2 separate regions of the Homo sapiens genome follow, and region 2 is linked to region 1. The links come from fine-mapping of genetic effects on gene expression. A gene starts in region 1. The other region holds a variant in brackets. All regions are shown on one strand. Distances are from middle to middle.

Region 1 (5,211 bases):
TGACATGGACTACTCAAGGCACAAGATGAAGAAAAGGAGACAGGATGAAGCCAGGAAGCTGGACCTCGGGTAAGTCACTTTCCCTTCCTGGGCCTTGATTTTTTATCTGTGAAATGGGGATAATACTCCTTACTTCTTGGAACTGTTGAAAGAATTAAAGGAGATAATCCATGTGGGGGCTCAGCCCTGTATTAGGCCCACAGCCAGCTCAGGAACCAAAAGAACTATCAAGAAAAAAAGGCGTTCTGTGTATCAATGCTCATGGTCATACTCGCTTCGCCGCTAGAGGGTGCCCCAGCTGCACTGAGAGGCTGTCACACAGCCCACCAGCCTTCCAGCTGCTCCGCCCATCCCTCCCCAAGAGAAGCATCAGGGTTAAGGTTACTCCCTGGATCCCCTAGGATGTGCGTCGCTTGAGGGTGGGGGTTATAAAAATATGAAATTCTGGAAACCAACATTTCTTTCACTTCTGCTTCTCTTCTCCGAAAAAGAGTCCTCCCACAAAGTCACCGGCTGTCGGGTGGGAGGGGGCCCTGAGGCATCCGTAGCACTACAGGAAGACAGGGGGCCCACTGAGTCCCACCTGCAGCCGTGCCTGCCACCTAGGGCCATCTTGCCCTTCCTTTCCCAGACTCTGTTTTTCCTTGTCAAAATAAAATAAAAACCCAAATCCTCCAAGATGGCTTCCTCTGGAAGTTCTTCCCTCCCTAGCAGAGACTAATATGCTATGCTCTCACTCCCACATCCCCATCCCCCAGAAATGGCCGGGAGTGGGGGGAAACTGAGGCTCAGAGCCCTAAAGTTAGTGGCCCAGCCTGGGTGATAAATTCAAAGTAAAATGATTTGAGGTCAAATTCAAGTTGGATCCCCAAGAAAGGAGGGGAGCCATGAAGAACAAATCCTGAAAGACTGAACGGGGGAAGCTGGGGGCAGGGAGGCAGGTGGTCCCCCAAATCCTCTCCTTGTGCCCTGCCAGGAGGTGGGACCCCACTCACTCTCCCCCTGGGTTCCAACTCCCAGCACAGTCATAACAGCTCAAACAAATGCCCCCTTCCCATGGGCATCCCCCACCTGCCTCAGCCACCCCCTTTCCTGGAGCCCTAAAGGCATCCCCAGCCCCTGGTTTCAACAGGGAGGATTATCCCCAGTCCCAAAACCCTCTTGTTGAAGCTGATGCTGGCTGAGGCCTGCCATCAGGGGCTTCTGGGGGGGCTCACAACCACCCCCTGCCCAGCTGGGGCCCCTCTGAAAAGGCCGGCCCGCTTGGGCGGCCGCGTATCTGTCCCTCCCTTCCAGGCCCCGTGCTGTGCCGGGGCTGGGGGCCCGAGAGGGGGATGCTGCTGGGGCTGGGCCAGGTTACCTTCAGGAGGAAAGTTTTGGGTTTGGGTCCCCTCTTCTTGGGCCCATACAGCTCACGCTCCCTCTCCCTGCGGCCGAAAAACACCAGAGGTTAAAAAGAGCCCCTTCCCGGGCCCCACTCCGCGCTGCCCTCCCCGGCTCTCCCGCTTCCCCGCGCGGCGCCCCAGCCGAGCCTCGGCCTCGCAGCCCCTGCCAGCTTCCCCAACAACTCACTTTTGTTCGAAGGCTGCAATGAGCCGCGAGTCCAGGATGTTCTCCTCGGGCTCCCAAGTGCTGTACCTGCCGAGTCACAAACGCACAAAATCAGGATGAAGACCAGAGAGGGACAGGCACGCGGCGAGAGCAAGAGCGCGCACCCCCACCCCAGGCCCCGGTGCCCGCTGCCTCCCCTCCCGCGACGCCCCCGGACCCCGCGACACTCACTTGATCGCCCACCCCTTCCATTTCACCAGGTACTCGATGCGTCCCTGAAAAACAGAGGGGAGAAAAACGGGGGTGGGGGTGGGGAGGATGCGGGGACGCGAGGAGGCGGCGGCGCGGGGCTGGGCGAGGGAGCCGGGCTAGCGGGACCGCTTCGCCCCGAGGGCCCCCGGCCCCGGCCCCGGCTGCGGACAGCGGCGGCCCGCCCCGGGCGGCGGCTCACCTTTCGGATCCGCCGTTTGATGATGGATTCGGCCGCGAAGACCCGCTCGCCCACTGCAGACAGCTCCATCTTGCTCAGCGGCACCCACAGCCCATAATACTCCCTGCGCCCGCGGCCGGTGCGGCACCGCTCGCGCACGCGCCGCAGCGCCCAGGCCCCGGCGGGCGGGAGCGCGGCGGGGCGCGCGCTCGCGTTCCAGCTGCGGGCCGTCACGTGATCCTCGCGGCTGGCGCGCGGTTGCCAGGACCTCCCCCTCCCCCGGGGCGGTTGCTAGGGAAAGTCGGCGCTCGCGGGGCGGGGGCGCGCGCTGGCTCTTAAAGGGGCCGCGCGGGCGGAGGGAGCAATTGCCGGCCGACCCGATGGGTGCCCGGCTTGTGGGCACGCTGCGGCCTTACGCTTATCACCCCCCCTCACATCTTGCCGGCGCCCGATCGCTGACACCCTCTCCTTGCCTCTTAATCCCCACGCGAGTCTCGCCAGGCCCCGGGCGGAGAAGGGCTGTGGAGCCCGAGTCTCGCCGCCACCGCGCATCTCCCGCAGCAGCCTGCAAACAGTTAAATATGATGCAGCAGAAATGCAGTTGCTGTTGCCTTGCCAGGCCTTGCGGGAATTTCTTTAAAACATCGCCCCCCACCCATTATTTATGTATTCGTGGGAGGGTGGTTTTGTAACCAGTTCAGAAGAGTTAAAACAAAAACGCCACCGCAGGAAGGGGGTGTGCGGCGAATGGGGCCGAGGAAGGCCGGAGTGACCGTGGGCATCTGTCTGCGGCCGGGGTCTCGGGCGGCACCTGTCCTCGCCCAGGAGACCGGGGAGGATTCGGCGGGGCCGGTGTGGCAGTGGGGGAGGGAGAGGGACCGCGGGCAGGAACGGGCTCCCCGCACTCCGCCTTGGGCCCACAGCGGGTCATCATCTGGTCATTCGGCAGAAACCGCCTTCGCGGTCATATCTGTGTTTTCCGATTCCCAGCACCCCTCCCGGCCCCCCGACCTGGCCGCGTCCCTCTCCCCGCCCGCAGCTGCGCGAAGCTTCCGCCATTGCTCTGGGGAGCCCAGATCCCAGCTTCCCACTTGAGGAGGGGCGGGGGATCGAGCTGGGGCTGTCCAGGAACGGACACACAAAAAATAGCCCTGCCGCGCAAAACGCTCCACTTTTTAAATGTTGAAATTACTTGAACTTTATTTCCCATTATGTTAGTAGTCTTGTTCTTTGTAAAACAATTTTAAAAATACAGATAAAACAACTGTCCATAACCCCCATAAAACCATTGTTAACATCTTCACCAATCTTCCAGCCTCTGCTCTATGCGTACATAAACTCACGTACACCTATGTATGTATGTATATACATACACATACACATTGTCTGTAGATTTAATTTTTTAACAAAATGGGATCACGCTATTCACACTGTTCTGGAATCTGCTTTTCTCCCTTAATGCTATAAAGTGGACATCTTTCAGTGTCATTAAATACAGATTTCACCATCCTTCCAGTGACCACCTTGGGGCTGAGATGGGGTGGGGAGGAATGGGGATTGTGAAGAGTCAGGGTTGTGTCTTGCGAACATCAATGGCTCATTAGGAAAGATTTTTGCGTTTCTGTGCTACAATGCCAATTCTTGGGTTTCAAATCCACCATAGCAAAATGTTAGTCTTTTTCTCCCAGCAGATTTGTCCAATTATTACCTTGAGAGAAATCCCTCTCCTCACTTAAAATCAGTATGTTCCAGGGAAACAGCTATTTGCTGGCCAGCCCAAGGTGAGCTGCTGTGGTAAAAATAGAAATGTCCTCCTGGGAGATGTGGGTGGTGGTGGGTGAGCAGGTGAGAGGAGTGGGTATGACAGTGTGTGTGTGTTCAGGCTGACGGAGACAGGCGGGGGATGAAGCAGGTGAGTCCACTTGTTGATTCATTCAGCAGTGTTTGTGAGCCCTTGTGAAGCACCAGGCTTTGTGTGAAACCATCAGGAAACAAAGGTGCCCCAGGCTGAGGAGCTGTCAGTGGAGTGAGAACGGCACCTGTCACACAGTGTGACTAATGCTAGAATAAAGGTGTAGGAGTTTCGTGTTGCTGCTCTCACAAATTAACACAAGCTCAGTGGCTTAAAATGACTCACATTTGTTATCTGATGACTCTGGAGGCGGGAAGTCCCAAATCAGTGTTACTGGGCCCAAGTGAAGGTATCCTCAGGGCTGGTCCCTTTTTGGAGGGTCAAGGAGAGTATCTGTTCCGTGCCTCATCCAGCTTCCAAATGTTGCTGGCATTTCTTGGCTCATGGCTTCATCACTCAAATCTCTGTTTCCACGATCCCTTTGCTCACTTCCTGCTTCTTTCTTTCTTTTGTTTTTGTTTTTGAGATGGAGTCTTGCTCAGTCACCCAGGTGGGAGTGCAGTGGCACAATCTCGGCTCACTGCAACCTCTGCCTCCCGGTTTCAAACAATTCTCCCAGTCTCAGCCTCCCAAGTAGCTGGGATTACAGGCATGCGTCACCACACCCGGCTAATTTTTGTATTTAGTAGAGATGGGGGTTTCACCATGTTAGCCAGGCTGGTCTCGAACTCCTGACCTCAAGTAATCCACCCGCCTCAGCCTCCCAAAGTACTGGGATTACAGGCGTGAGCCACCGCACCTGGCTTCTGCCTCTTTCTTTTAACAACACTTGTGATTACATTGGGTCTGCCCAAATAATTGAGAATGATCTTTCCGTCTCAACCTCAACTTAATCAGATTTGCAAAGACCCTCTTACCATAGGGTAACATGGATGGTAAGTAAGGTATCCTATCCACAGGTTCTGGGGGCTAGGGGCTAGGACACGGACATCTTTCGGGGAGGCATTATAAGCCTGCCACAAGAGTCTGTACAGGATGTCTTGGGAGTGGACATAGGGGAGCAACCTACCACGTGGAGGTGAGGCTGTGAGGGCTTCTCAGAGGTGGAGACCTCTGATTTGGGGCCGGAAAGACAAATGGGAATTGGCCTACAAGTGAAGAATGGGAAGGGTGTCCCGGGTGGAGGTGTCAACTTGAACAAGCACATCAGAGCCTGAGAGTGTGTTTTGGGGATGGGAAAGAAGTCTGCTATGGCATGGGTTGGGGCAGTACGGCAAAGGATGGCAATGGAAAGATGGGTTGGACTGAACTTGGGAAGGGCCTTGAATGCTGGGTAGGTTTGGACTTTGTCTCAGGCAGTGGGAAGCGTGAGGGAGTT
Region 2 (5,236 bases), 64 kb after region 1:
GACCCTGGAATTAATTATTGACATTTACCTTGGCTTGGCCCCCAGCAGCTTTGATGCAAACTCCACCCTTGTTGGGAGCCCCATCCCCTGCCCCACACCACCCAAGAGCATTTCTTTTCTTTTCCTTTTCTTTTTTTCTTTTTTCTGTTTTTTTTTTTGAGACAGAGTCTCGCTCTTTTCGCCCAGGCTTGAGTACAGTGGCGTGATCTCAGCTCACTGCAACCTCCGCCTCCTGGGTTCAAGCGATTCTCCCTGCCTTAGCCTTCGGAGTAGCTGGGATTACAGGCGCCCACCACCACGCCTGGCTAATTTTTTTGTATTTTTAGTAGTGATGGGGTTTCGCCTTGTTGGCCAGGCTGGGCTTGAACTCCTGACCTGAGGTGATCCGCCCACCTTGGCCTCCCAAAGTGCTGGGATTACAGGCATGAGCCACCATGCCCAGCCCTTAATAATGTTTTCTGATGATAAAAACAACACTCCCTCATCACAGGCAATTTGAAAAGCAGAGAAAAGTTGCAAAAGGAAATTATCCCTATTACCACCTAGAGATGGTGAATACTTGAATTTTTTGTTTAAACTTTGAATTTTATTTCAAATTGACAGAAAATTGCATAGAAAGAGGATCCGTATACCCTTTACCCAGATTCATCAGCTGTGAACATTTCCCCGGTATGCTTTAACCCTGTGTTTGTTCTATCAATCATGTGTTTCTCATTCGGATTATAAAATTGACACTTTGCTCTATTCTAGTGTTCCTCAGCTTTGGTCTCTTTGGTGTTTGACCACGATTATGTGACAGATGGAGCCTGGCCACCATGTCCCTGGCTGTACCCCAGGCCCCAGCCTAGCCCTCATTTGCACCATGGGGTGTGATCATCCCCAGCTCCCGGGCACCGTGCCATGGCAAAGTCAGGTGTGGCCATGCCAGGGCTGCGGGCAGCCTGCCAACAAGACTGCAGGTTCTGCCTTTATAGCAGGGCGTGCACCAGCGCTTCACTGTTCCTGCCTTCTGTCCTTGTGACCTTGTAAGATAAGGGCGTTGGGCAAGGAAAGTGCAGGTAGGAGCAAGGGAAATGAAGGAGATGTGAATGAAATAGTTCGATTCAGGTAGATCTGGGCATCACCAGGCCCGAGGAAAGGTGTATTTTCACTGATGAAGGAAACCATGTTTTTGTTGTTGTTGCTGTTGTTGTTTGTTTTTTGTTTGTTTGAGACAGAGTCTTGCTCTGTTGCCAGGCTGGAGTGCAGTGGCGCACTCTCGGCTCACTGCAAACTCCACTTCCCGGGTTCAAGCGATTCTCCTGCCTCAGCCTCCCAAGTAGCTGGGATTACAGGGGCGCACCACCACGCCTGGCTAATTTTTGTATTTTTAGGAGAGACGAGATTTCAACATGTTGGCCAGACTGGTTTTGAACTCCTGACCTCAGGTGATCCGCCCGCCTCGGCCTCCCAAAGTGCTAGGATTACAGGCCTGACCCATCGCACCTGGCCATCGCACCTTAAAACATTTAAGACATGTTTTAAATGCTGAAACCAAATGGCCAACGATCGTATCTAAAAGGGAAGATATAATCAGAGATTTTGAGACATCTTTTAGTTCCCTAGGAATGGAATCCTCCTGAAAATATGGAAGTTGAGTATTCTTTCTTTTTAGTTTTTTCAGCGACGTCGTGGATACAATTTCTTCAGACTTGTTCTACTTTATTCATGTTCTACATTATCAGAGATTCTGTGGATGCATCACTTTAATGACAGTTATAATATTTTAAGCATTGTTAAATTAGATGGCAGTTAGAATAAGAACAATCAGTAAGCTGGACTTAAGGGTTAGTAGAACACTCTTCTCACAGTTGACAGTGTACTCATAGGAAATAGTATAACCTTGGCTGAGGTACCTGCTTTTTGAGTCATAAGATCTGAAATAGGGACATTTTCTGTACATTTTTGTAAAGTTTGCTGAAGTAGTTTAAAACCCATTTTGACATAGTTTCAGTTCCACCTGAATCAGCATTCTGAAAAGAACATTCCAGGGGTTTCCTGAAACTTACAGAGCTGAAAAGCTAGTGTGCCTCCCGGAGTCAGGCTGGAGAAGCAGATTTGGGGGCTGCAGCAGAGGTGTCCTGGCTGGGGTGAAGGGCAGAGCCAGTTCCTGGAGGGAGGGAGCCCAGAGAAAGGGCAGGTGGCCAGGGCTGGGCTAGAGAAGACCTAGAAAGAGGCCAGGAGGAGAGGAGGAGCCTTTAGGGGAAGGAGCCGAGTTCACCACCCTGGAGGTCCCAGGAAGCAGAGAAAAGGTGACGCTGACTCACTGCTGCAGGGGTCGGGAGTACCTGGGTCTCAGCTCTGCCCTTGAGTCCATCACGCTTCGCCTCTGTCTCTGAGTCTGGCCTCTGCATCTTCCCGCTCCCATTACCAGTTTTGTTTGCATTTTCTGTCCCAGGAAGCTCTCTTTGGCCTCTGGAGCTGCGTATATCTGTAGACAGCGGACCCTGCTGCCACATGGCTGGGCCTGCCGCTTCTGTGGCTTGGTCACACTCACATGCACGTACGTGTGCATGAACACGCTCGCACACACCCACATGCATACACGTGTGCACACATGCATGTACAGGCACACACGCACACATGTGCATGCGTGTGTACGAACACACACATGCACACACGCAGAATCAGAAAAGGATCCTGCCCATAGCTCACCCCAGACTCCCCTGGGTGTCGCATCTTGTACCACCCAAAGTCAGGGTGTCCCAGCCCTCTCCAGGAGGCCTTTACTTCCCAGGCTCTGTCATTCCCAGAAGCAGGGGGCTAGCATGTGACAAGGAGTGCTCAGGCTCAGGTATGGTCAGTCTGGGCAGCAGGGACCAAATCCCAGTGGAAAGGCGCAGGCCGGTGAGTGAGTGAAGGCCTGGTGTCCATCTGATGCTTCCAGAGGGCAGGGGCCAGCTTGGACTTATCTGCACCACACAGGGCCCCAGCCCAGGGCTTCCCACGGCATGGGTGAACTGGGTCAGGTGGGCTTCACAAGGTGTGGGAAGAGA[G/A]AAGACGCTGGCCTGGGAATTGGCCACCTGGCTTTCTTTCCTGGCCCTATGGAGGGAAGGGAAGGAACATTGAACTCCCCCAAGTCAGGCCCTGGACTGAGTCTCCCACTCAACCGTAGAAGCCATCATGCTGGGAAGTGGTTTTATCCCCGTTGAAGAGAGGACACAGTTCCACTGAGAGGTGAGGTCGTGATGAATGTGTCCATGGGTGTGTGCGTGTGTGTGTGGGTGTGTGCGTGTGGGTGTGTGTGTGGGTGTGCATGTGTGCATGGGTGTTCGCACGTGTGCATGTGGGTGTGTGTGCATGTGGGTGCACGTGTGTGCATGGGTGGGTACATGTGTGCATGGGTGTGTGCACGTGTGAGTGTATGCATACATATGTGTACGTTGGTGTGCATGCATGTGTGTATCCATGTGAGTGCATTGTGTTCACGTAGGTGTGTGCATGGGGGTGTGTGCATGTGTGTGCATGTGTGTGAGTGTGTGTATGTGGGTGTGTGCATGTGTGTGCATGTGGGTGGGCGCATGTGTGGGTGTGTGCATGTGTGTGAGTGTGCATGTGTGTGCGCACGTGGGTGGGCGCATGTGTGGGTGTGTGCATGTGTGTGTAGGCATGTATTGAGGGGCTGGGAAGTCTAGTCAAGGTGGGGATATGTCCTGGTCCTATTGAAAGTCTCACTGCAGCACCTCTGTAGACACTGATTGTAGGGAGAAGATTGAGAGTCAGAAGGTTCTCCACCATCCCAGTGAGAGGTGATGGTGCAGGCTGTGGGGACAGAGATTAGCAGGCGAGTAGGGATAAGTTTGGAGGTGGCATTGGCAGGACTCAGTGATGAACTGGGTGTCAGGAGAAAGAAGAATCCTGGTAACACCTTGGGCTGGGGCTCAAGCTCACTGCTCGCTGGGTGAATGCTGGTGTCCTGTGTAAAGTTGGTGAAGTCTGAGGAAAAATACATTTTTGGGGGGGAACCCACAAGGAATCAGGAATGTGAATTATGATGCCCATCAGATATCGAGAGTGGATGCCCAGTAGGAAGTGGATGTCCGAGTCTCGGGCTGAGGCGAACTCCAGGACCGGAGAGGTGAGTGGTGTGCACATGGGGCGGGCCGATGTCTCCTGGGAGAAGGTGGGAGACACAAGTGGGGAGGACCCCCAAGTCTGGTACTGGTGTTTACAGATCCTGGAGAAGAGGAGGAGCTACTGAGTGAGCAGAAGAGAGAAAGCCGCGGGTCAGGGGTGTCACCAACAATGAGAGAGGAGGCGGCTCAGGAAGAAAGTGTGTTCAGCCGGGTCATCTGCTGCCGGTGGAGGGGCAAGATGAGAACTGAAAACTATCTCTTTCTCCTGGCAACCTGAAGGTCGCTGGTGGTGTGGCCAAGAGCAGTTTTCTTGGAGCGTTGGGGAGGGGACAGGAGCCAGATTGCAGGGGGATGAAAGTGAACAGGAGGCAGGAAACTGGGACAGAACATGTAGAAAGATTTTATATCTATAAATCATATATAATTTTTTTCTATGAAGGGATGCCAAGAATGGAGGAAAATGTGGCTCCACAGGGTGGAGATAGCAGTCCACGTGGCTTGCTGATGGGAAGGAGCCTCCAGTAGGGGCGATGGTGTGGAAAGCTACAGAGGGAAACCCACTGAAGGAGAGGCCGAGCCCTGAGCAGGAACAGAAGGCTGGGCTTTGACAGGGCACAGACTATGGCAGGCCGCGGAGTCAGGAATTGTGTCTGTTTTTGTTTGAGTCTGTATCCAGCTCCTAGAATAGCACCTGTCACATAGTAGCTGCTCAGTAAAAACAATGTTGCATGAATGAATATAGACACCAAAGGAGGCAGGGTTTTAGAGGTGGAGTGAAGGTGAGTGTGATCTTTTCTGCTTTTTGGTGCTCAGTGACGGCTGAGGTAGGGTCATGGGCTGAGGACTGGGAGGGGATTGGCTGGGAACGGGTGACTGCGGGAGCAGCTGTGCAGGAGAGGAGCTGTGCTCACTGTGCCACGGGAATGCCAGGAGGATTCATTTCTCATCCACTGGACAACACCAGCTGAATCGAGGCCCATCTTTCCACCCCTGAATTGCAGCTCCACCTTGGTCATATACCAGCTTCCCAAATATCCTTGATTCTGTTTGTGTGTGGCATTTTCCTCATCTCTATTTCTGCTCCTGGTGCATATACTACTCTTTTGATTACGGTAGCTTTA

What was found. PIP is the estimated chance that this variant, and not a neighbour inherited with it, causes the effect. A credible set is the group of variants that fine-mapping cannot tell apart.
Region 2: its variant is the best candidate, but not a certain one, in a credible set for the expression of CBX6 in lymphoblastoid cells (TwinsUK, PIP 0.72).

Annotation. Positions count from the first base shown.
Region 1 is chr22:38,870,120-38,875,330 of GRCh38, forward strand. It overlaps CBX6 (chromobox 6), which reads right to left and starts at 2,097. Exons shown (of 5, transcript NM_014292.5): 1 at 2,003-2,097; 2 at 1,783-1,826; 3 at 1,573-1,638; 4 at 1,361-1,427. The coding sequence starts at 2,071. RefSeq lists silencers at 1,719-1,768, 1,869-2,018, 2,049-2,308 and enhancers at 2,303-2,853, 2,854-3,403, 3,240-4,439, 4,256-4,435.
Region 2 is chr22:38,934,300-38,939,535 of GRCh38, forward strand. No RefSeq gene overlaps it. Among named protein-coding and RNA genes, the nearest start is that of APOBEC3A, 21 kb to the right of the region's middle. RefSeq lists an enhancer at 2,024-2,845. The variant G/A (reference allele first, on the strand shown) is at 3,036.